Linked DNA regions of Homo sapiens. The protein of the gene in region 3 interacts with the protein of the main gene of each other region in a biochemical or structural test. Each region holds a gene or a part of one and is shown on either strand. Other genes may lie near its edges. The genes, in order: MAST3, SHROOM4, DGKK, SNTB2 and RHPN2.

Region 1 (4,288 bases), on a different chromosome or scaffold from region 3:
TTCTGAGTAGCTGGGACTACAGGCGTGCACCACCACACCCAGCTAATTTTTAAATTTTGTATAGAGACGGGGTCTTGCTATGTTGCCCAGGCTGGTCTTGAACTCCTGGCTTCAGAGGATCCTCCCACCTTGGCCTTCCAAAGCACTGGGGTTACTGGCGTGAGCCACCATGCCTGGCCAGCAGTAGTGTCAATAATAAGGAATGTTAGTTGAGGGGTGATTCCCTCCTGGGCCTTGAAGACCTGGCTAAGGGCCATGGGGGAACCCAGCTGGGGGCAGAGTGGGAGTGGCCATGTCCAACATCCCATCCTTCTCCAGAACGGGCTGCGAGTGTGATTTAGGCTGGGCAGGTGGCTTAGCGCGGGGCCCTGGGCAGCCACCTACCCTGTCCCCTTTTCCCCCCACAGCTGCCGCAGCGGGAACCGCAAGAGCTTGGTGGTAGGAACGCCCTCCCCGACCCTCTCCCGGCCCCTGTCGCCATTGTCGGTCCCAACGGGTGAGTGTGGGAGCAGCCAGCGGGTGCTGTGTCCTGCCTCTGCCCCGCTGACTCAGTTTCCCCGCCTCCTCCTCAGCAGGCAGCAGCCCCTTGGATAGTCCTCGGAATTTCTCGGCTGCCTCTGCCCTAAATTTCCCCTTTGCCCGGAGGTGAGTGATTGCCGGCTTTGGGAGACAGTGCGGGCACCACGGGCAAGGGTTGGGCAGGGGCACGTGCTCGGTGGCTAGACCTGGCTCCTCATTCATTTCATTCACCTTTTCCCCTCCCCTGGCCCGTCTGGTGGTGGTCTCCCCCTCTGGCTCCCATTCCCGGCAAATGCATGCCATCTTGCAGCCACATCCCACGCATGGACAGGTAATTTCAACCAGCCCAGGGGGTGGGGGGTCATGGGGGGATATAGCCCTAAGAATCATTAACTCACTAAAGAAATCATTCATTCATTCACTTAACAAGAGCTGATTGAGCACCTGTCATGTGCCAGACGCTTGCATTTCATTTATTTATTCATACAACAACATTCATTAAGCACCCACTGTGTGTATGCTCTGTGCTGCGGGCTGAGGGCATGGTCGCAAATGGGCAGCTGGCCCTGAGCCCCTGGGGAGTCCTCCGTTTGGTGGGGGGTGGTCAATGTGTGCCCCAGAAGCTACAGCTCAGAGGTTGAAGCTTTGACAGGGGACACAGTGGCAGCTGGACTCACGGGGGGGCTTCCTGGAAGAGGTACCTAAAGAGAGAGAGCATGCAGTGGACTTGGTCAGCCTGTGTCTCTGTTCTTGGTTATTTTCAGGAGATCCTTCCTACAACAGGGCCAGAATATGCTGGCCACAGTGTCTGTTCTTAGTCCCCACAAACCACAGGGGCCAGGCCTTCCTTCCATCTGTTCTTGTTCCCCTCTCCAGGGCAGACGGCAGAAGATGGTCCCTCGCGTCTCTCCCATCTTCCGGCTATGGAACCAACACACCCAGCTCCACCCTCTCGGTACCCATAGCCCCACCTTGGCAGGTGGACAGGCAGATGCCGGGTTGTGGGGGGACACATCTTTGTGTGTTTTTTTCAAGGTGTTGGATAGTTGTGCAGTCAGCAAACATACTAGTTACTTCCTCCATGCACGCCCCATTCTGGGAAATGCAGGGTCCCCTGAGAAGACCCAGCCTTGGCCCCAAAATAGTCCCTGGTTGGGGAGATACAGATATCCTCAGCCTATGGGGTCAGGGCCTGACCAGAGGGGGACTTGGGGCTGCCCAGGGGTACAGGCAGAGAGGACTTCCTGGAGGAGAGGGCATCAGAGCTAGGGTTTTGAGGGATGCATAGGAGCTAGGCAGGAGAAAGGATGTTACCTTCTGATGGCCAGCAGGCAGCCTGGGCCTTGAGGGGTGGTGCTGGGTTCCTGGCCACAGCACTGACGGTGAACTCATGGCTCTGATCCCCACCACTCTCTACCAGTCAAGCTCATCCTCCCGGGAACGTCTCCACCAGCTTCCCTTCCAGCCGACGCCGGACGAGCTGCACTTCCTGTCCAAGCACTTCCGCAGCTCAGAGAATGTGCTTGATGAGGAAGGCGGCCGGTCACCCCGCCTCCGACCCCGCTCTCGCAGTCTCAGGTGGGCCGCGACCTCTGGCCCCAGCCCCGGCCCCTCCCTGGGCTGGTGTGGAGGCCCAAGTTGTGGCTCCTCCTTCACCCCAGCCCTGACCCTGCCTGAGCCTAGCCTCTGATTCTTGTCCCTCAACCCTGGCTCAGATCCCCCAACATCCTCCCCTGGGGTTGGTCTCAGGTCCCATATCACAAGCCAGCTGTCTTCCTTTCAGCCCGGGCCGTGCAACGGGGACCTTCGACAATGAGATTGTCATGATGAATCACGTGTACCGGGAGAGGTTCCCCAAGGTGGGCAGCGCCTGGCGGCTGGACCAGCCCCTGCACTTCTTTCCACATTGCTGTCCCTCCATGGAACTCTGTCTTCCTGGCTATGTCCCCTTTGCCAGTCTGTTCATTTCTGTCTTTCCTTCCCCTTCCGTTGAAAGATGTCGTTCCTCCTGCACCAGCCCTCCCACCCGATCGCCCCATTGCCCCATCTCCTCTCTCCCCAACCATGCCTCTCCTGCCCCATTCTGCGTGTGTCACTCCAGCCCCGCCCTCTGACCAGGTCGCCCCGTCTCGCCCCACCCAGGCCACAGCACAGATGGAGGGCCGTCTGCAGGAGTTCCTGACGGCCTACGCGCCCGGCGCCCGGCTGGCGCTGGCTGATGGCGTCTTGGGCTTCATCCACCACCAGATCGTCGAGCTGGCCCGAGACTGCTTGGCCAAGTCTGGCGAGAACCTCGTCACCTCCCGCTACTTCCTAGAGATGCAGGAGAAGCTGGAGCGGCTTCTGCAGGATGTGCGTGGTTTTTCGCATGTTGAGGTTTTGCATGCAGTGGGACGTGGAGTGAGGGGGGTCCCCAGGCCAGACGGTGCTGAGGACCTGTGGGTGATGCCACGACCCACCTCCCCCAGGCCCATGAGCGTTCGGACAGTGAGGAGGTCAGCTTCATCGTCCAGCTTGTCCGGAAACTGCTGATCATCATCTCACGGCCAGCTCGGCTGCTGGAGTGTCTGGTAAGTTTCTCTTTCTACGGCCAGCTTGGGGTCCAGGCAGAACTGAGATTGGGACCACAACAGTCCTGCCAAGATACAGGTGACAGTTCCCATCGTGTAGGGCTTTGAGAGGAACACAGGGTGCTATTGGGCTAGCGTGGGCTTCCCTAAGGAGGCAGCGGGAGTGGAGACCCAGTGGGTGAGCTGGGAAGGGTGCTCCAGGCAGAGGGAACAGCATGTGCAGAGGCCTGCAGGTGGAACCAAGCCCTGGGTGACCAGCCCTCCTGTGCCCCTAGGAGTTTGACCCTGAGGAATTTTACCACCTGCTGGAGGCGGCTGAGGGCCATGCGCGGGAGGGCCAAGGCATTAAGACTGACCTTCCACAGTACATCATTGGGCAGCTGGGCCTGGCCAAGGACCCCCTGGAGGGTAAGCCGGGATGGGAAGAGGAAACCAAGGCTGGGAAAGGCCGGATGGAGGCCAGGCACGGTGGCTCACACCTTTAATACCAGCACTTTGGGAAGCTAAGGCGGGCAGATCACTTGAGGCCAGGAGTTCGAGACCAGCCTGGCCAACATGGTGGAAACCCCCCCCCTACTAAAAATACAAAAATTAGCTAAGTGTGGTGGCGCATGCCTGTAATCCCAGCTACTCAGGAGGCTGAGGCACAAGAATTGCTTGAACTCAGGAGATGGAGGTTGCAGTGAGCTGAGATCGCGCCACTGCACTCCAACCTGGGCGACAGAGCGAGACCCTGTCTCAAAAAAACAAAAAAAGAAAGGGCAGATGAAGCCAGGATTCAAACCCAGGCCCATCCGATTCCAGAACCACCGCACTGTTCTTTGTCTCTCTGTGGCCTTGCTCTTAGGTCACCTGTGGGAATTATGCTGAGACCCTCTGATCTTTTGGGGCCCAGGGGCCTCAGTGTCCTCAAATGCCACGTTAAGATGGTCAGGAAGCCTGGGGACCAGTGTTAGCAGTGGCCTTCCCTTTGTCCTGCAAATTCACAAATGACTTTACCAATTTCTGTGGCCTTTACTGTGGCCCAGAAAGTGAACTTGGAGTCAAACAGGACAACCCGTAGGTAAGAAGACGGTCAAAAACTCCCACAGCCGGCCGGGTGCGGTGGCTCACGCCTGTAATCCCAGCACTTTTGGGAGGCCGAGGTGGGTGGATCACAAGGTCAGGAGTTCAAGACCAGCCAGGACAACATGGTGAAA
Region 2 (4,288 bases), 250 kb from region 3:
TCTGGCAGTGAGTAGGCAAGGACCTAGGGAGTCCTCCCAGAAGTAGCCTGGGGGATGGTGGTAGCTTGTGTTATGGTAATAGGTCATAACCGGGATATAAGAGCAGCCAGTTTAGACCTGGGTCTCCAACAGAGACAGGATGGAGAAAGGGGAAAGGATTTGTCTTTTTAAAAACCCAACAAGTCAGATCTCTGAAAGCAAAGCCTGGGGATATTTGCAAGTTTTGCATCTCTAAATACTTCTGAAGTAGAAAATGGGAGGCAATAAGTGATATTTTGTATCATGCACTGGGCCTAGAACTCCATAGACACAATCTGATTTGATTCTCACAAGTGATCCATGAGGCGGCCATGATATTCCTCCATTTTAGAGATGAGGTAGTGAGACTCTTCTTAATACTGGCTATTTTATGACAGAAAAATTATTTTTTCCCTTTAGAATTACATACTTCAAATTTGTGTGGTTGAATGACTTGCTTTGGGTCACTCAGATATCAATTTTATAGTCAGGATATAAATCTCAGTTGTGCCCATTTTATGAAGCAAAAGTTACTTTTATCTAACCCTAAAGATGAGACAACTGCAATTTTGGTGGCTGAGTATCTTTTTCAAGGTTACTAAGCTAACAACTACTGAAGCCAGTGCTGTACAGTTTCAAGGAATTATAATTGTTATATTTTTAAATAATTTACGTAGCTTTCCCCTCTCAAAGACAATAATGAAGGTTACCCACCCAAGAACCAAGTCCTCACCTGCACTGTCAGCTTCCTGGGTTTCCAAGTGTTGCCAGGTGCCAAGCTGCTGTCCTCGAGGGCACTGTGCTGAGGATTATGATAGCAAACTGAACACCGAATGCATTGGTGGTGGTGGCACCGGCAGTTGTAGCAATTTGGCATCATATTTCTCTTTAGCAAGGCAGGGCAGATTTCCCCAGAACAATAAATGCAAGGATCATGGACTAGAGCTCCTTGAACACTGCAGGAGTAAGAGCAGGTCCTGTGGTAATCAAAATCACCACAGTGTAGTGGCTTACAACACATGGAATTTTCTAGACCTTTGCTTGCAAAACATTCTGAGTAAGTGGGAGTTTCTGACTGAAGGGGTGACATGGAATGATATGATTGGTCTGTGGCATGATATGGTTGGTCTGCGGAATGATATGATTGGTCCATGGGATGGCGCCTCAATTCCCTACAGCTGGAGCTCATTGGCTGGAAGTTTTGGTCTATAGGTTTTGGTCTCTGGGTAAAAGTCTTGTTGCTATGAGTGGTTAAACCTGGCAAATGAGATGTAGATAAGGATTTGCTACTCTCTTCAAAGAACTTTCTTCTGTCTGCAAAAGGCAAGAGGATGGCATCCTCCCCAGCTTGAGCAGTAGAAGCCTTCAATTCCTTGTTGTCACCTGGGTTGGAAGGGCCTTCCATGGCTGCTGCCACAAGTGGCTGTGAATTATGCTCTGGAGACCATCTCCAATGACCTCCACGGACTCCACAGTGAGCATGTGCTTTCTCAGGGTCTGAGGAGGATGGGTCAGGTGCTTTCCACCAGGTGTTCAGGCCCAAAGAGGACTGGCCAGGCCTCTGGCCAGGGCTTATTCGTCCCTCTAAGCCTGTCCTAGATTCATGGCTCTCAGGGGCTTGGCTGAGGCACTCGGAAGACCTAGCTCTGAGCATCATGCTTTTGTTGAAGAGCTTGTCTCTGGGGCTGGGAGGTTTTTTACATGAAGATAGAAGAGATGTGTTAGAGGCAGTGAGTGGAGGACTTTCTGGGGGCTCCTGGGTCTCTTCCACTGGCTCCTTAGTGTCACACAGCTGTGACAAGGGACCCTTGCTTTTCTGGAGCTGGGCCTTCCTCCTCTGAATTTCATTACGCAGATTGGTAGCAAAACGCTCACTCTTCCGCCGGTTTTGGATCGAGCGGCCCCGGGTCCCTCCACTTCGCCTACCACCCATCCGGCTGCACTCCTTGGGCTCGCTGTCCCCTTCTTCACCTGCCTCTGTGCCACTAGCTGCTTTAGTGGTTGAAGAACAGTCCGTGGCTTGTTGAACAAGGGAGCCAGAGGCAGAGGGTTGCTGGTTGGCCAATTCACTGGCTGCTCTGCTTGTTCTGTTTGGGTCCAGGAAACCTTTTTCTGAGGGGTGTCCATCAGCCTCTCCATGTGGGGGACTGCTTTGGCTCTGGTGTCCCAAAACTAAAGACCTGTCATCCACTTGTCTGGTCTTTCTTTCTTTGCTGGACTGGTCATGGGTTCCTCCTGTAGGGGGGCATGGACTTTTCTTCCCTTTGTGGCTGCTGTGCAAAGGGGACAGAGTCCACTGGTGCCCATCCTGTACGGGTGGGAGCTCCATCCCTTTGCTGCCCCTGGTATCAAGGTGCACATGCTGCAGGTGGGATGCCAGCAGCTGTTCAGGGGCACTATGGCGATGCCCTGTGGGTCCTATGAGATGTGGAGGTCTGCCAAAAGAAGCCTTAGCTAGCTCTGCAGAAGCCTCATTGAGTGGGTTGGAATCCACGCTGGAAGCTCTGTCACAGGCTTTTGGGGATCCAACAGCTTTGGTTGAGGCCTGCATCAGTAGATGCTCAGAGCCCTGTTGGCTGGATTCAGGAGGCTGACTGAACTCACAGTTCTGATGGCCCTCACTTGTCACTTGGTCATGCCCACTGAGGCAACAGAACCTATTAGGGTTCCTTGCGGGTAGCACAGGCTCTAAGCTCAGTTTCTCCTTCTGTGGCAAGGGGACCACAGGCTCAGATGCCCTGCGCTGCTCTCCATTGAGGAGTTGGGCTCTGGAGGCCTGAAGGCTGTCCCGCCTCACTGGAGGTTGTGGTGGGCCCCTGACTGCTTTGGCGGGCCCTGACTGGTATCCCTCCTGTGGACGGGATGACATCTGAGAGCTGGGGGTCAGGTGGCCCCCATTGGTGCGCCGACTACCTCCTGAGGTCTCAGCCACATTAGGCCGGCCACTGGGGGCCTTAGTTGGCCCTGGGCCTTGCATGATGCAGTCTGTAGAGGCTGGCTCCTCTGGCCTGAGGGAAAGGGCACAGTCAGAAGCATTTGAGCTGGCCGAGAAGGAGCTGTAGGCTGAGTCACGCTGGTTAGGGTACATGTTCTGGTCAATAGGCAACAGATGGCTCTCATAGGTGGCTTGGCCTGGTTGCTCCAGGCTCTCCATGCTGCCAATGGAGCTGCTTTTCTCGGTGCTGCAATGCCGGGAGAGTGGACACCACTGCACACACACGTCACTGTAAGACACAGGGCATACTGGTTAGTTAGCGAAGTCATGGCCAGCCCTACTATAGGAGAGGGCAGGCCAGCCCAGAGGTACCCATGCCACAAAAGAGAGGAGGGTAGGCAAAAAAAAAAAAGGGGGAAGAAAGGGAAACAGGGAAGAAGATGGACATTGGGGTGCCTCAGGGGCTTAGTAAAATGGGACACAAGATGATATATGGAAAAAAGATGGGGAAACACCCCAAAGACTAAAAGTGGGAGAGCTCTATGGGGGTTATCCTCTATTTCCCTGACATTAGCAAGTCTGAAATTGCTTCTAGGCTGTCCCTGTCCCTAGGGAGTCAGCATGTGGCTCCCTGCCAAAAGAGACAATCACAGAATATCAGCATTAGAGAGGGGCCCTAAAGGGCTGATTCAGTTTTAGCCGGACCATTTTGTAAATAAATCAGTGATTCTCAAACTTGAGCATGTGCGTCAGAATCACATGCAGGGCTTGTTGAAACACGGGTCACTTGTCCTCATCCTAGAGCTTTAGGTCTCGGTGAATCCTGAGAATTTGTACTTCCAACAACTTCCCAGGTGCTGCTGGGGCTGCTTGCTCATCCAGCAATCACACTTTTGAGAACCACTGGTGTAAAGCAAGCCCAGCAAAGGGAAGTGATTTTGAGATGGTGATTTACTCAAGAACACCCAGCTCTAACTACTGGCACAGACAGGGCTGTAATTCAGGTGTTCCCCTATTCTTTTCTTGATAATAGCAATCCTGACTATTTACTGAGGACCTACAATGTGCCGGACACTTTACAAGGTTTCATTTCAAGCTGAAGAGGACAGATCTTTTTTTTTCTTTTTCAACCTTTATTTTAGATTCCGGGGGTACACGTACAGGTTTGTTACAAAGGTATATCACATGATGCTGAGGTGTGGAGTACAATTGAACTCATCACCTGGGAAGTGAGCAGAGTACCCAACAGGTAGTTTTTCAACCCTTGTCCCACTTCCTTTCTCCCTGCTTTTGTATTCTCCAGTGTCTATTGTTCCCATCTTTATGGGACAGATT
Region 3 (4,288 bases):
AAATGCCTTCTTACAGAGAGGAGTCATGCTAAATGGCAACTGGACAGCGGTTAATGTAACTGATATCCAATGCAAACACTTGAAGAAATGGGTTCCTGGGCCCCTTTGAAGCCTCAGTATCCTATCAATAAATAAATTTTCCATTTCTGCTTGCTACCAATATTGGTCCAGACTTGGAAGAAACAGGCTATATTCAGACATCAATGCTCATAAAAAGCTATGAGCGTAGCTGGCTGGTACACACCAGCTACCCTAGTTGTGCTACTCCAGGAGATTTCAGCTGCTTGGAATCAATTTCATTTGAAACACGTGACTCTTAGAGTGCAATTTTTTTTGAAGCAGCAACTTTTCTGGCAAAGTGAAGTACTTTTCCAAACACCAGATCCATATACTAAATGCCTAATTCAATGCCATGGAACAGATCTAAGCTTGTAGGGAGATTTTAGAGGAGGAGCCAGTGGAGAAAAATAGGAGACAGGAAAGGATATCAGGTGACTTGAGGTGGAGGTGGGGAGGACAGCGTCTTGTTGACTGTGGAATCTCTGATAGAAATAGGTGGGGCACTTACGATCACTAGAAAGGCTGGATATAGTTTACTTGGAGCTTGTAAAGTAGAGCCACAGAAATGAGCCATCATCACATGGAATGAGTTTTGAAATGTCAGAAGGCTAGCACAAAATTATTGAGACACTGTTTAAACCATTCATTCTCTGGGCACTTTGGTGTTCTCATCTACAAAAATAGGAGTTTAGGTATATGAAAATGTACAATACCTAGAACAAACCAATTCTGAAAAAAAGAATCAAGTGGGGGACTTTCATCTCCCAATTTCAAAAACTACTGTAAAGCTATAGTTATCAAGATAGTGTGGTACTTGCATAGGATAGACACATAAATAAATAGAACAGAAGTGAGAGTCCAGAAATAAACCCTTGCATTTGTGGTCAATTGATTTTTGACAAAGGTGCCAACACGATTCACTGGGGAAAGGATAGCTGTTTTGAAAAATGGCTCTAGATCCGGGCGCGGTGGCTCATGCCTATAATCCTATCGCTTTGGGAAGCTGAGGCGGGCGGATTGCCTGACCTCAGGAATTCGAGACCAGCCTGGGCAAAATGGTGAAACTCCGTCTCTACTAAATTACAAAAAATTAGTCAAGCATGGTATCATGCACCAGTAGTCCCAGCTACTTGGGAGGCTGAGGCAGGAGAATTACTTGAACCCAGGAGGCAGAGGTTGCAGTGAGCCGAGATCATGCCACTGCACTCCAGCCTAGGCGACAGAACAAGACTCCGTCTCCAAGAAAATAAAAAAAATAAACAAATAAATAAATTAAAATGGTGGTGAGATAATTAGATATCCACAGGCAAAAAGATAAACTTAGACTCTTACCTTAGACCCTCACACTATACGTAAAAATTAACTCAAAGTAGATCATACACTTAAATGTATTAATAAGAGCTAAAACAATACAAACTTTAGAAGAAAACTTAGGAGCAAATTTTTAAGATCTCAGATTAGGCAAAGATTTCTTACAGATGGCACCAAAAGCATGGTCCATAAAGAAAAAAACTGATCAATTGGACCGCCTTAGAATTCAATACTTTTGTATTTCAAAGATACCACTAAGAAAATGAAAAGACCAGCAAGAGACTGGGAGAAAATATTTGCAAATCACATATCTGACAAAGTTCCTGTTTCTCAGCCCAGGCCTGCTTTGAGAAAGAGGTTCTAGTGGTGGTGGCAAGGGTGGGGTGTTGTGGGGTGGGGTGTCACACTTTTTACTTATAGCTTCAATGTACCACAAGAACTCTGAGACTGACTTAGGCCTTGTCTGAAGTATGAAAGTGCGAGAAGGTGCCATGCAGGCCAACACTGGATAGGGTAAAATTAACGGGTTCAGGGGAACCAGGTTAGGAACACCAAAAACAAATAGAGGGATGTTTGATACTTTGCAACTTTGTCAAGTGAAAACAGATCTGAAGCCACTACTGAAACCTGGTTAAACTTTCACAGACAGAACAAAGGTGGGCGATTTGCTAAATTGAGTCAACATAATCTGTTGTCAGTAACAGTAACACAGGTAGCTGTGTTTACACAGAAATCCACAGGTCTGGATTTGAAGGCAGCTCAAGTTTAGGATGCCAGTGCAGTCATCCAAAATTTGGCACACACTGTCCCGCTAGACTAGTCTTGGGGCCAATGCATTTTACTTCCAGTGGGTCCCTTTCTTTCTGTTGCTTGTCTGAGAGGTAGAGAATGTAGGAATACGTATGTGTATTGTGATAGTGTGTTTGCATGTAGGGAAGGGAGTTTCTTTTCCTTACTTGTATTGCCCTGGGTGTTCATCTCTTCTGGTGTTGAAGTCCAGAGAAATTTTAGCATCCAGTCCAATTCCGAAGTAGTTGTTCATGACACATTTTTCTTTGAAGCGTCTGAAATTATTCAAAGAAGAGGACAGACATTGGTGCAGGAAAGAAGTGCCGCTATCAATTGGGCATGAAGATGAATCTGCATGATGGAAAACCAGTGAGGGAAGGCCCCCTCCACACTGGGCACTAACTATAACATTTTTGAGAGGCACATGTAGATATCCTTTTGTGTGAACAACTAGCTTATTAGCTGTAAGAGGGAGTGCCTCGCCAGTTGGGAAGCTTCAGTGGGATTGGAACTCATAATAAAGAAGCAACATTGATGATTTTAGTCATCTTTGGAGGCCTTATGTATGAGTGGCCCATATTTTCTTCATATGTAGTATTAAGGGAAATACTGTTTACTCCTATAAAGAACTTTTGAATATCCTAGACACAAACGTGCCATGACAGTTAAGTCTGCACAACTGCTCTCAGTGATGTCCGACATCAAAGGGGAAAATGACCACACATTTGGAAGGAAAGACTGATAAAAGAGGGTAGATATGTACATAACAAAAAAGCCAAATTATTTGTCAAGTCTCCTGTGTCCATCTAGGGTGTCAGCATCAAAACCAGTGGTGTGCCATAGCCAGTTGGCACCAGCTCATGTAAACTGATTATGCATATCTCTTTCCAACTCCAGATTCAATGGCATTATATCACTAACTTAAATAGGCCATGGTGGAAGGGTTTACACCATAAATGAATCAGGGCTTTCTCCCCCAAGAGAGGAGGTTGTTAAACACTTTGCCAGTGCACTATTGATCAAAATTCATTAGGTAGATCCATGAGAGCTCAGACATAAATTTGAGCCAATGGTGAAGTGTGGGGGCAAGAATGCGGGTTGGAGACAGGAATAAAAATTGTTTTCTTAAATAAATTATTTAAGAAAACATAAATAATTTCTAGCTGTGTCCTTTTGAGAAATTAAATGGATACAGTTTAGCTGTTTAATCTTAGATTACTTTTTTATTCATTACCATACTGACCTTACATCTCTCACATGAGATTTGCCTCCCTCAACCACAGTCCAGAGATTGGAGTTTCTCTAACTAATGTCCAAACTGATCTTCTTAATGGAACTCAGAATGAGTGAGTGTGGCAGAACTTGGCTGCTGCCGATATTCTAAAGAGGGAGAACTGGTGAGACAGATGTCCTTAGATTTGCTGCCTAGTCCCCTAGTGACCATTTTAGTTTTTAGTATCTTCAACCATTTACTGTTAAGGGCAACAGTGAAAAAAAGCAAGTCCTCTGTAATAACAACAACTAACATTTATTAATTATTTATAATAATAACAATAATAACTGCAAATGCATATAACACTTAATTATGGGTGCCAAGCACTACTCAGTGCAAGTACTTTTCATATATAAATGTAATAAATACAGCAAACCCATGATGCAAGTTCTACAATGGTCTTCATTTTACATATGAGAAAACTGAGGCTCACACTGGTTTAGTCACTTGCGTAGGTGACACAGCTAGTAAGTAAGAGAAAGGATTTGACTATGGATATCCTAAGATTGTGCTCTTAACAAGAGAAAGAAAGAAGCCATTAAAAGGTGATAGAGTTAAATACTTACATAGATTCAGGTGTAAAATGTAAGTGATCCAAGTTAAGGTTGTCCAGGTCCTCACTTTTGAGAGAAGATATAGAAGACAAAGTGCCACGACGAGAACCTAGACACAAAAGACATCACTTGGGTGACGGATACAAACAAAAAAGCCCTTTCCCCTCACTTGTATTTCGCCCTATTTTCTCTGTGGAGGCAGGGTCAAGCTCAGTGACTTTCTCCTAGATAATATTAAGGGTTCTAATTCCAAAGAGGGATCCTCTTGGATGGATAGGGACTTCCACTGAGAGAAGAATAA
Region 4 (4,288 bases), on a different chromosome or scaffold from region 3:
AGCCTCCTGAGTAGCTGGGACTATAGGCACACACCACCATGCCCAGATACATTTTTTATTTTTATAGAAATGAGATCTTGCCATGTTACCCAGGCTGTTCTCTAGCGCCTGGCCTCAAGTGATCCTCCTGCCTCCTGCCTTAGCCTCCCAGAGTGCTGGGATTGTAAGCATGACCCACCACACCTGGGGCATTTGCCAGTCTTGATGACCAAAATTGTTTGTATCCTGTCAATTCAGAGGTGTCCTTTGAATTGTATCTTTGATAGCGTTGACTGTGACTTTTGCTGAGTATAGCCTTTAACTTTGATGAACATAATCTTTATCTTCATCCCAAATGCCAACCAAACCATGTCACGGCTCCTGAAAGGCCTCTCTGCCTTTGCTCCTTTGGTTGGTCCTTCTTGCCCAGTTCAGTCCTTCTGCCTCTTCCTCCCTGCCTGTCCAGTTTTACCAATTCTTTTTTTTTTTTTTTTTTTTTTTTTTGAGACAGTGTCTCGCTCTTGTCACCCAGGCTGGAGTGCAGTGGCGTGATTTCATCTCACTGCAACCTCTGCCTCCCAGGTGCAAGCAGTTATCCTGCCTCAGCCTCCCAAGTAGCTGGGATTACAGGCATGTGCCACCATGGCTGGCTAATTTTTGTATTTTTAGTAGAGACGGGGTTTCGCCATGTTGGCCAGGCTAGTCTCTAACTCCTGACCTCAAGTGATCCGCCCACCTCGACCTCCCAAAGTGCTGGGATTACAGGTGTGAGCCACCGTACCCGGCCAGTATTACCAATTCTTTAGGGCCTATCTGAAGGCCCATCTCCTCCAGGAAACCTTTTCTTGACTTTGGCCTCATTCACTTTGGTGTTTGCTCATGTTCTGTACATTCTGCCTTACACAATTGGGGATTTCCTGTCTATGCCAATGAGTTTACAAAGTCCTTGAGAGCAGGGACTGTGCCTCTTACTTCTCTAGTGCCTTGCACAGCCTACACACACTTGCCAGTATGAGTGTTCAGTGGGTACTCGAGGAATTAAATCGAACAGATGTCAAGGAGTGTTATGGTCATTTCTGCCTCATCTCAGTGACCAAAACAAAACACACTTCTTTTTTTTTTTTTTTTGAGACAGTCTTGCTCTGTCGCCCAGGGTGGAGTGCAGTGGTGCAATCTTGGCTCACTGCAACGTCCGCCTCCCGGGTGCAAGCAATTCTCCTGCCTCAGCCTCCTGAGTAGCTGGGATTACAGGCACCCGCCACCACACCCAGCTAATTTTTATATTTTTAGTAGAGACGGGGTTTCACCATGTTGGTCAGGCTGGTCTCAAACCCCTGACTTTGCGATCCGCCTGCCTCGGCCTCCCAAAGTGCTGGGATTACAGGCGTGAGCCACCACGCCTAGCACAAAACACACTTTAGAAGTTTCCATACAGGTTAGGTATCACACATTCTCAAGAAAATATTTTTCCTATTTTGAAGTCAGAAGATTCCCTTTTCACTTGATAACTGACATAGCAACTTTACAACTAATGTTTTTTGCTTTTCTTCAACAGGCTGCATGTTAAATGGCCAAGAGGTGAGGCTTACTATTCACTATGAAAATGGGTTCACCATCTCAAGGGAAAATGGAGGCTCCAGCAGCATATTGTACCGCTACCCCTTTGAAAGGCTGAAGATGTCTGCTGATGATGGCATCCGAAATCTATACTTGGATTTTGGTGGTCCCGAGGGAGAACTGGTAAGAGTGTTTCTGAAACACATGTTTATCTAATAGATGTTCTCTTTCCTTCTCATTACTTCTTACCCCTTATATACAAAGTCATGGACTGACATTCCATTTAGAACCATGAAATTTTAAATTAAAAAAAATTTTTTTAAAGATGGGGTCTCTGTCACCCAGGCTGGAGTGTAGTGGTGCAATCATAGCTTCCTGCAGCCTATACCTTCTGGGCTCAAGTGATCCTCCCACCTCAGCCTCCTGAGTAACTGGGACTGGACTATAGGTGTGTGCCACCATGCCTGGCCAATTTTTTATATTCTTTATAGAGATGAGGTCTCGCTTTGCTGCCCAGGATGGTCTTGAACTCCTGGCTTCAAGTGATCTTCCCATCTTGGCCTCCCAAGGTGTTGAGATTACAGGTGTGAGCCACTGTATCTGCTCTTCTTCAGTTTTCAAGATGGCATTGGGTGTTGGTTTTTGTTGCCGTCATTTTTCTTTTTTTTTTCTTTTTTGAGACGGAGTCTCGCTTTGTCGCCCAGGCTGGAGTGCAGTGGCACCATCTCAGCTCACTGCAACCTCTGCCTCCCTGGTTCAAGCAATTCTGCTGCCTCAGCCTCCCGAGTAGCTGAGATTACATGCACGTGCCACCATGCCTGGCTAATTTTTCGTATTTTTAGTAGAGATGGGGTTTCACCGTGTTAGCCAGGATGGTCCCAATCTCCTGACCTCATGATCTGCCCGCCTCAGCCTCCCAAAGTGCTGGGATTATGGGCGTGAGCCACCGTGCCTGGCCTTAGATTTTAAATCCTCTACTATTTAGTTCTTCCTACCAGGCATGGTGAAACCCAGTACACCACCAGTTGTCTCCTAATTGGGGATGTGAAACCTCACACCAGTATTATGACATGGAATAACCTTACTCCATAGTGCACTTTTGCCTGTGGCTTTAAGTTCCTAAGAGTTTCCATAGCTCTGGCACATTCTTTACCTACCTTAAATTTATTTTGCATCTTCGTTTATTAAGTTGTCTGTATATGGTAGTGAGGTAGTGATGCTTAGTGTCCTTTCTCCACAGACCATGGACCTGCACTCTTGTCCGAAGCCGATTGTATTTGTGTTGCACACGTTTTTATCGGCCAAAGTCACTCGTATGGGACTGCTTGTATGAGCAACAAAAAATCAGAAAAGAGCCTTGACTGTCACAAGAAATATTTCCACCTCAAAAAAAAAAAAGCACAAAAAGAAACTCTTTGCTCTCCTTCAGCACAGTGCCTTCCCAAGGACCTGCAAATAACTGCTGAACCATAACCGTGTTTAAAGAAGAGCCTACCTTTCACAGTCTACCTTGGCCAGATATTCTAGCACTCTAAAAGGCTCCAAAATGAAGCTGTTGATTTATTCTCATTTCAAAATATGGTTTATGAGTAATTAGGTTTATTTCTACTGCTAAAAAGAATGGCTCATTGTTTTCTTTTTTTTTCATTGTTTTCATTTTTAGACATAATCAAATACCCAAGCATTGTTTTCTTTTTCTTCTCCCTGTAGGATTTGTGTTGTGCTTAGCCTTGATCTCTTGTTCAGAACAATTGTCCCTTCCCAGGTGCTAGCTTGCAGCAGCCTGTTGCTTCCTGAGCATTCCAGATAGGTCGTATGTCTTGGAATTTACTGTCCTCACTAGCTCCTTCCACCATAGGAAGTCCTTGAATTGTATCACCAAAGGGTTGTTCCATTTGCCCTGGATCTCCCTCTATCTCAGCCTGGCCATCACTTCCCACCTTATCCCAAGCTTTGCCACTGTCTCTAGGACTTAGAACTTGTAAATTTGATTTGCCTTGCCTTCTACTTCCTTTCTAGTGGTGACTGAGTTGAAAAGCAAGTTGGAAGCCACTGCTTTTAAAGAAAAGTTTTGCTTGGTTTAGGTTTTTCCAATTTTATTTTTGTTAGGAGCCAGGGGATAAGATTTATTTTAAATGAAAATCCTCTTCCTAGGTTAAGCCATTTTTTTTATTGCTTACCAAATGTGCCTTTGGTTAGGGTTAGTGGAGCTTTATTAGTCACTATTTGAATAACTGGAAATCACTGCCATTTCCAGGAGATCACCTATCCTAGTTTTGAGGAATAGTCATTGAGGTGGGTTTCCTTAATGGCATCTCTTCTAGTAGGCAGATCTGTTTGAACAAGATAAATCCTAAAGAGCCAGCCTGCTTGAGGAGTAGACTTGGTGGGTGAAGCCAGCAATTCCGCACAAACGTCATGTTGAATTGTTTTGGGCTGCCCAAAAACAACAGGATGCAGCATCCTGGCTGTGGCCTGGCCCTTTGTGGCAGCAGTGGCATGGACAAGCAACTGCTAATTCGAGACTTACTATTGGCTTCACAGCACACCCTACAGTGAGCAGGGTGATGAGACCGTGGAACAGCTACCTGCTTTTGGTTAAGATTGCCAGATATCATTAGGACACAGTAGCAGCAAGAATGCTGATTTTGTAGTGTTAGAAAATGAACTCAGCTTGTTTTTCCTAATTTTGAAGGTGGTATATATCTGCAAACATTTAAAATGGTATAATATCATATAAAATGTCAAAATT
Region 5 (4,288 bases), on a different chromosome or scaffold from region 3:
AGACCAGTCTAGGCAACACAGTGAGACCCTATCTCTACAAAACAATTAGAGAAAATTTGCCGGTCATGGGTGGTGCATGCCTGTAGTCCCACCTACTTGGGAGGCTCAGATGGGAGGATCTCTTAAGCCCAGGAGGTTGAGGCTGCAGTGAGTCATGATCATGCCACCGCACTCCAGCCTAGGCAACAGAGTGAGACTTTGTCTGAAAAAATAAAAAGTAAAACAAATTAAAACAAATCCTGAGTTTTTAGATTTCAGAAAGAATTATGAGGGGTTAGTAATTGCCATATTTCATTTAGGAGAAGCCATACCGCCTTGGCCTCCCAAAGTGCTGGGATTACTGGCATGAGCCACCGCTCCCAGCCCATTTTTTTTTTTTATAATTGAAGAACTTACCTGACACATCATTATCACCCAGAGTCCATAGTTTCCATTAGGGTTCATTCTTGCACTTGTGTATTCTGTGGCTTTTGGCCAACATAGAATGACAGTGATCCACCTTTGCAGTGTCATACAGAAGAGTTTCACTACTGGAAAAATCCTTTGTGCTCCCCCTCCCTCCCTCCCCCTAAGTCCTGGCAACCCCTGATCTTTCTTCTGTCTCCAGGGTTTTGGCTTTTCAGAATGTTGGAATCACACAGCGTATACAGTAGGTAGCAATGTTCAGGTTGGCTCTTTCACTTAGTAATGTTTCCTCTGCATCTTTTCATGGCTTGCTGGTTCATTTCTCCATTTTTAGTGCTGAGTAATATTCCATTGTCTGGATGTCCCATGGTGTGTTTATCCAGTTACCCCGTCAGATATTTTTGTGTGTGGCTGTGGCGGTCAGTGTGATTAGTCCTGTCATCTTGCTTGGAAACAAAAGCCTCAGTGCACATGCATTCTTGACTTTTACTGAAGAAATGAGTTTGTTGTTGTTGTTGTCGCCCAGGCTGGAGCACAGTGGTGCGATCTCAGCTCACTGCAACCTCCGCCTCTCGGGTTCAAGTGATTCTTCCGCCTCAGCCTCCTGAGTAGCTGAGATTACAGGCGCCCGCCACCATGCCTGGCTAATTTTTGTATTTTTGGTGGAGACTGGGTTTCACCATGTTGGCCACGCTGGTCTCAAACTCCTGACCTCAGGTGATCCACCTGCCTCGGCCTCCCAAAGTGCTGGCATTACAGGCGTGAGCCACCGCACCCAGCCAACCCAGGAGTTTGACAGCAGTTTGGGTAACATAGACCCCATCTCTACAAAAATTAAAAAAAAAAAAAAAGGCAGGTATGGTGGCATGCACCAGTAATGCCAGCTATTCTCATGAGGCTGAGGTGGGAGGATCAACTGAGCCCTAAAGTTGAAGGCTGCAGTAAGCTATGATCACACCACTGCACTCCAGCCTGGGCAACAGAGTGAGATATTGACTCTTAAAAAAAAAAAAAAAAAGAATTTTTTCCACTTGTAGCATTAACTAGCCAAGTAATCTGTATTCTCGGAATGCATTTCTTTCACATAGGTATGACTCTCTCACCGGGGTTCCGGTCAGCCAGCAGAACCTGCTGCTGGAGAAGGCCAGTGTCCTGTTCAACACTGGGGCCCTCTACACCCAGATTGGGACCCGGTGTGATCGGCAGACGCAGGCTGGGCTGGAGAGTGCCATAGATGCCTTTCAGAGAGCCGCAGGTATGTCTCCTCCAGGGCTGACCAGACGGAGCCTTGGCCCCACCCGGTGGCACCAGGGGACCCCCCACTGAAGAGAATCTACAGGTCATCCCTCGCAAGGGCCAGACCAGTCTCCAGCTCTGGTGTAACTTCCCATTAAGAAACTTGCTCCGGCCGGGCGCGGTGGCTCACGCCTGTAATCCCAGCACTTCGGGAGGCCAAAGCGGGTGGATCACAAGGTCAGGAGATCGAGGCCAGACTGCATCTCAAAAAAAAAAAAAAAAACTTGCTCGGTGGTTCAGACCTCAGTCTGGGATGGCTGATGTACATGGTGAATCCTGTGGCTGACGATCTTTTCCAGACAAGTGGCCCCTGGGATGGCAGTGCATAACTGTTTCTTTCAACACTGTCATGAAGAGCAGAATAACTTTTCCCAAATAGTGAAACTGTAGGCTTCTTTTTCTTGTATTAGGTGTACCTTATCAGTGCGTATTACTCTCCGTGCCTTTATTTATTTATTTATTTATTTATTTATTTATTTATTTATGAGATGGAGTTTTGCTCTTGTTGCACAGGCTGGAGCGCAGTGGCATGGTCTCGGCTCACTGCAACCTCCACCTCCTGGTTTCAAGCAATTCTCCTGCCTCAGCCTCCTGAGTAGCTGGGATTACAGGCACCCGCCACCACACCTGGCTAATTTTTGTATTTTTAGTAGAAATGGGGTTTCGCCATGCTGGCCAGGCTGGTCTCGAACTCCTGACCTCAGGTGTTCCGCCTGCCTCAGCCTCCCAGAATGCTGGGATTACAGGCATGAGCCACCGCACCCTGCCCCTCCATGCCTTTATATCACCTGCATTCTGCCAACTTCTCCAGCATGAGGTGGGTGTTCTCAACCCTTTGTCAAGTGATGCATTCAAAGGATGTCTCATAGCTCAGTTCCCTTCTTCTGGGAACTGTCTTTTGTTATTTTATTTTATTTATTTGTTTATTTTGAGATAGAGTCTTGCTCTTGTCACCCAGGCTGGAGTGCAGTGGCACAATCTCTGCTCACTACGACGTCTGCCTACTGGGTTCAAGTAATTCTTCTGCCTCAGCCTCCCAAGTAGCTGGGATTACAGGCGCCTGCCACCATGCCTGGCTAATTTTTGTATTTTTAGTAGAGATGAGGTTTTGCCATGTTGGCCAGGCTGGTCTCAAACTCCTGACCTCAGGTAATCTTAGTATGAGAATGAGGTGCGGTGTTGAGGAGAAAAGCAGCCTAGTGCTTACACCTATAGAGGACTGGGGTCAACAGACCCAGCGCTGTGGGTGAGCCTGGCTTGGCTCACCTGTGCCTGCGGGTTCTGCCTTGCTCCCCCATAGCAGGGCTGTGTCTGGGTCAGACTCCACGTGGGGATGGATGCAAGAGCAGGGCACAGTGTAGACCACAGTGTGTTCCCCACGCTAGCTCTATAGCGTGTTGCCTTCTGGGCTGATCATCGACATTCTGCTTTGGGGTGTGATCCCCTTCCACCCGTGTGGATCATTGTTTGATATCACTTTGCCCTGCAAGCTTGTGAAGAACCATAGCTTTGCCACTTTGACTCATCGTGAAATTTCTGATGTTATAATGATTGGTCCTACCAGCCTGGGCCACACAGGAGGACCCCATCTCTACAAAATATTTAAAAATTAGCCAGGCGTGGTGGTGTATGCCCGTAGTTCCAGCTACTCCAGTGGCTAAGACGGGAAGATCACTTAAGCCCAGGAGTTTGAGGCTGCAGTGAGCTATGATTGCACCACTGTACTCTAGCCTGGGTGACAGAGTAAGACTCCATCCCTAAAAAGAATTTTTTTTTTTTAAATTAATGAAATAGGCTGGGCATGGTGGCTCATGCCTGTAATCCCAGCACTTTAGGAGGCTGAGGTGGGTGGATTGCTGGAGCCCAGGAATTTGAGATCAGTCTGGGCAACAAGGCGAAACTCCATCTCTACAAAAAGTACAAAAGTTAGCTGGGCCTGGTGGTGCATGCCTGTAGTCTCAGCTACTTGGGAGGCTGAGACAGAAGGATCAGCCGAGGTTGTGGTAAGCCAAGATCGCGCCATTGCACTCCAGCTTGGGCGACAGAGCAAGACCCTGTCCCAAAAAATAATTAATTAATTAAAAAAATAAAAGATTGGTCTATCGGGATGAAGCGATATGCTAAGATTCCAAGTATGAGTTGATTTCTTTTGCTGTAAATCTTTTTTCTGGACTCATCTTTCTGAGGAATCTTAGGCAGGCACTCTGTGTCCTGTCTCTGAGATTATATCAATGGAGACAAACTATAGACGAAATGAAGCAAGTAGGAGAACAGTGGGGAGTGTGAGGGAACCCCCATGGAGCTCGCAGCTCAAAACAGCAGGTGCCATCCCTCCGCAGGGCAGGGCTTTTTTTTTTTTTTTTTTGCTCAGCAACAAAACCAGAGGAACCAGTTGGATGGGATTCATATGAGAGATTCTATTTCAGTTCCAGATTGATTGTCAGTTAGCGCTTTGGACAGTTAATTTTCTAAACTACAAAGAAGTCAGAGGAAGGCTGCAGCATGAAAATTTCCATTGGAGCAGACGGATTGAGATTTTTTTTTTTTTTTTTTTTTTTTTGAGACAGAATCTCACTCTGTCGCCCAG

Evidence for each region.
Region 1: the proteins of DGKK (region 3) and MAST3 interact in a test that uses a peptide from one of them, tested with the Homo sapiens proteins (one large-scale study listed by IntAct).
Region 2: the proteins of DGKK (region 3) and SHROOM4 interact in a test that uses a peptide from one of them, tested with the Homo sapiens proteins (one large-scale study listed by IntAct).
Region 4: the proteins of DGKK (region 3) and SNTB2 interact in a test that uses a peptide from one of them, tested with the Homo sapiens proteins (one large-scale study listed by IntAct).
Region 5: the proteins of DGKK (region 3) and RHPN2 interact in a test that uses a peptide from one of them, tested with the Homo sapiens proteins (one large-scale study listed by IntAct).

Annotation. Positions count from the first base shown.
Region 1 is NC_000019.10:18,121,278-18,125,565, forward strand, and holds part of MAST3 (microtubule-associated serine/threonine-protein kinase 3), read left to right. Parts: intron 1-407; coding exon 408-496; intron 497-572; coding exon of another isoform or gene 573-575; coding exon 576-645; intron 646-829; coding exon of another isoform or gene 830-850; intron 851-1,395; coding exon 1,396-1,474; intron 1,475-1,939; coding exon 1,940-2,097; intron 2,098-2,302; coding exon 2,303-2,378; intron 2,379-2,661; coding exon 2,662-2,871; intron 2,872-2,987; coding exon 2,988-3,089; intron 3,090-3,364; coding exon 3,365-3,497; intron 3,498-4,288.
Region 2 is NC_000023.11:50,632,427-50,636,714, forward strand, and holds part of SHROOM4 (protein Shroom4), read right to left. Parts: intron 3,243-4,288; coding exon 752-3,242; intron 1-751. UniProt on the Homo sapiens protein: Probable regulator of cytoskeletal architecture that plays an important role in development. May regulate cellular and cytoskeletal architecture by modulating the spatial distribution of myosin II.
Region 3 is NC_000023.11:50,380,169-50,384,456, forward strand, and holds part of DGKK (diacylglycerol kinase kappa), read right to left. Parts: intron 4,097-4,288; coding exon 4,000-4,096; intron 2,436-3,999; coding exon 2,328-2,435; intron 1-2,327. UniProt on the Homo sapiens protein: Diacylglycerol kinase that converts diacylglycerol/DAG into phosphatidic acid/phosphatidate/PA and regulates the respective levels of these two bioactive lipids.
Region 4 is NC_000016.10:69,298,056-69,302,343, forward strand, and holds part of SNTB2 (beta-2-syntrophin), read left to right. Parts: intron 1-1,534; coding exon 1,535-1,719; intron 1,720-2,776; coding exon 2,777-2,869; 3' UTR 2,870-4,288. UniProt on the Homo sapiens protein: Adapter protein that binds to and probably organizes the subcellular localization of a variety of membrane proteins. May link various receptors to the actin cytoskeleton and the dystrophin glycoprotein complex.
Region 5 is NC_000019.10:33,005,386-33,009,673, reverse strand, and holds part of RHPN2 (rhophilin-2), read left to right. Parts: intron 1-1,493; coding exon 1,494-1,660; intron 1,661-4,288. UniProt on the Homo sapiens protein: Binds specifically to GTP-Rho. May function in a Rho pathway to limit stress fiber formation and/or increase the turnover of F-actin structures in the absence of high levels of RhoA activity.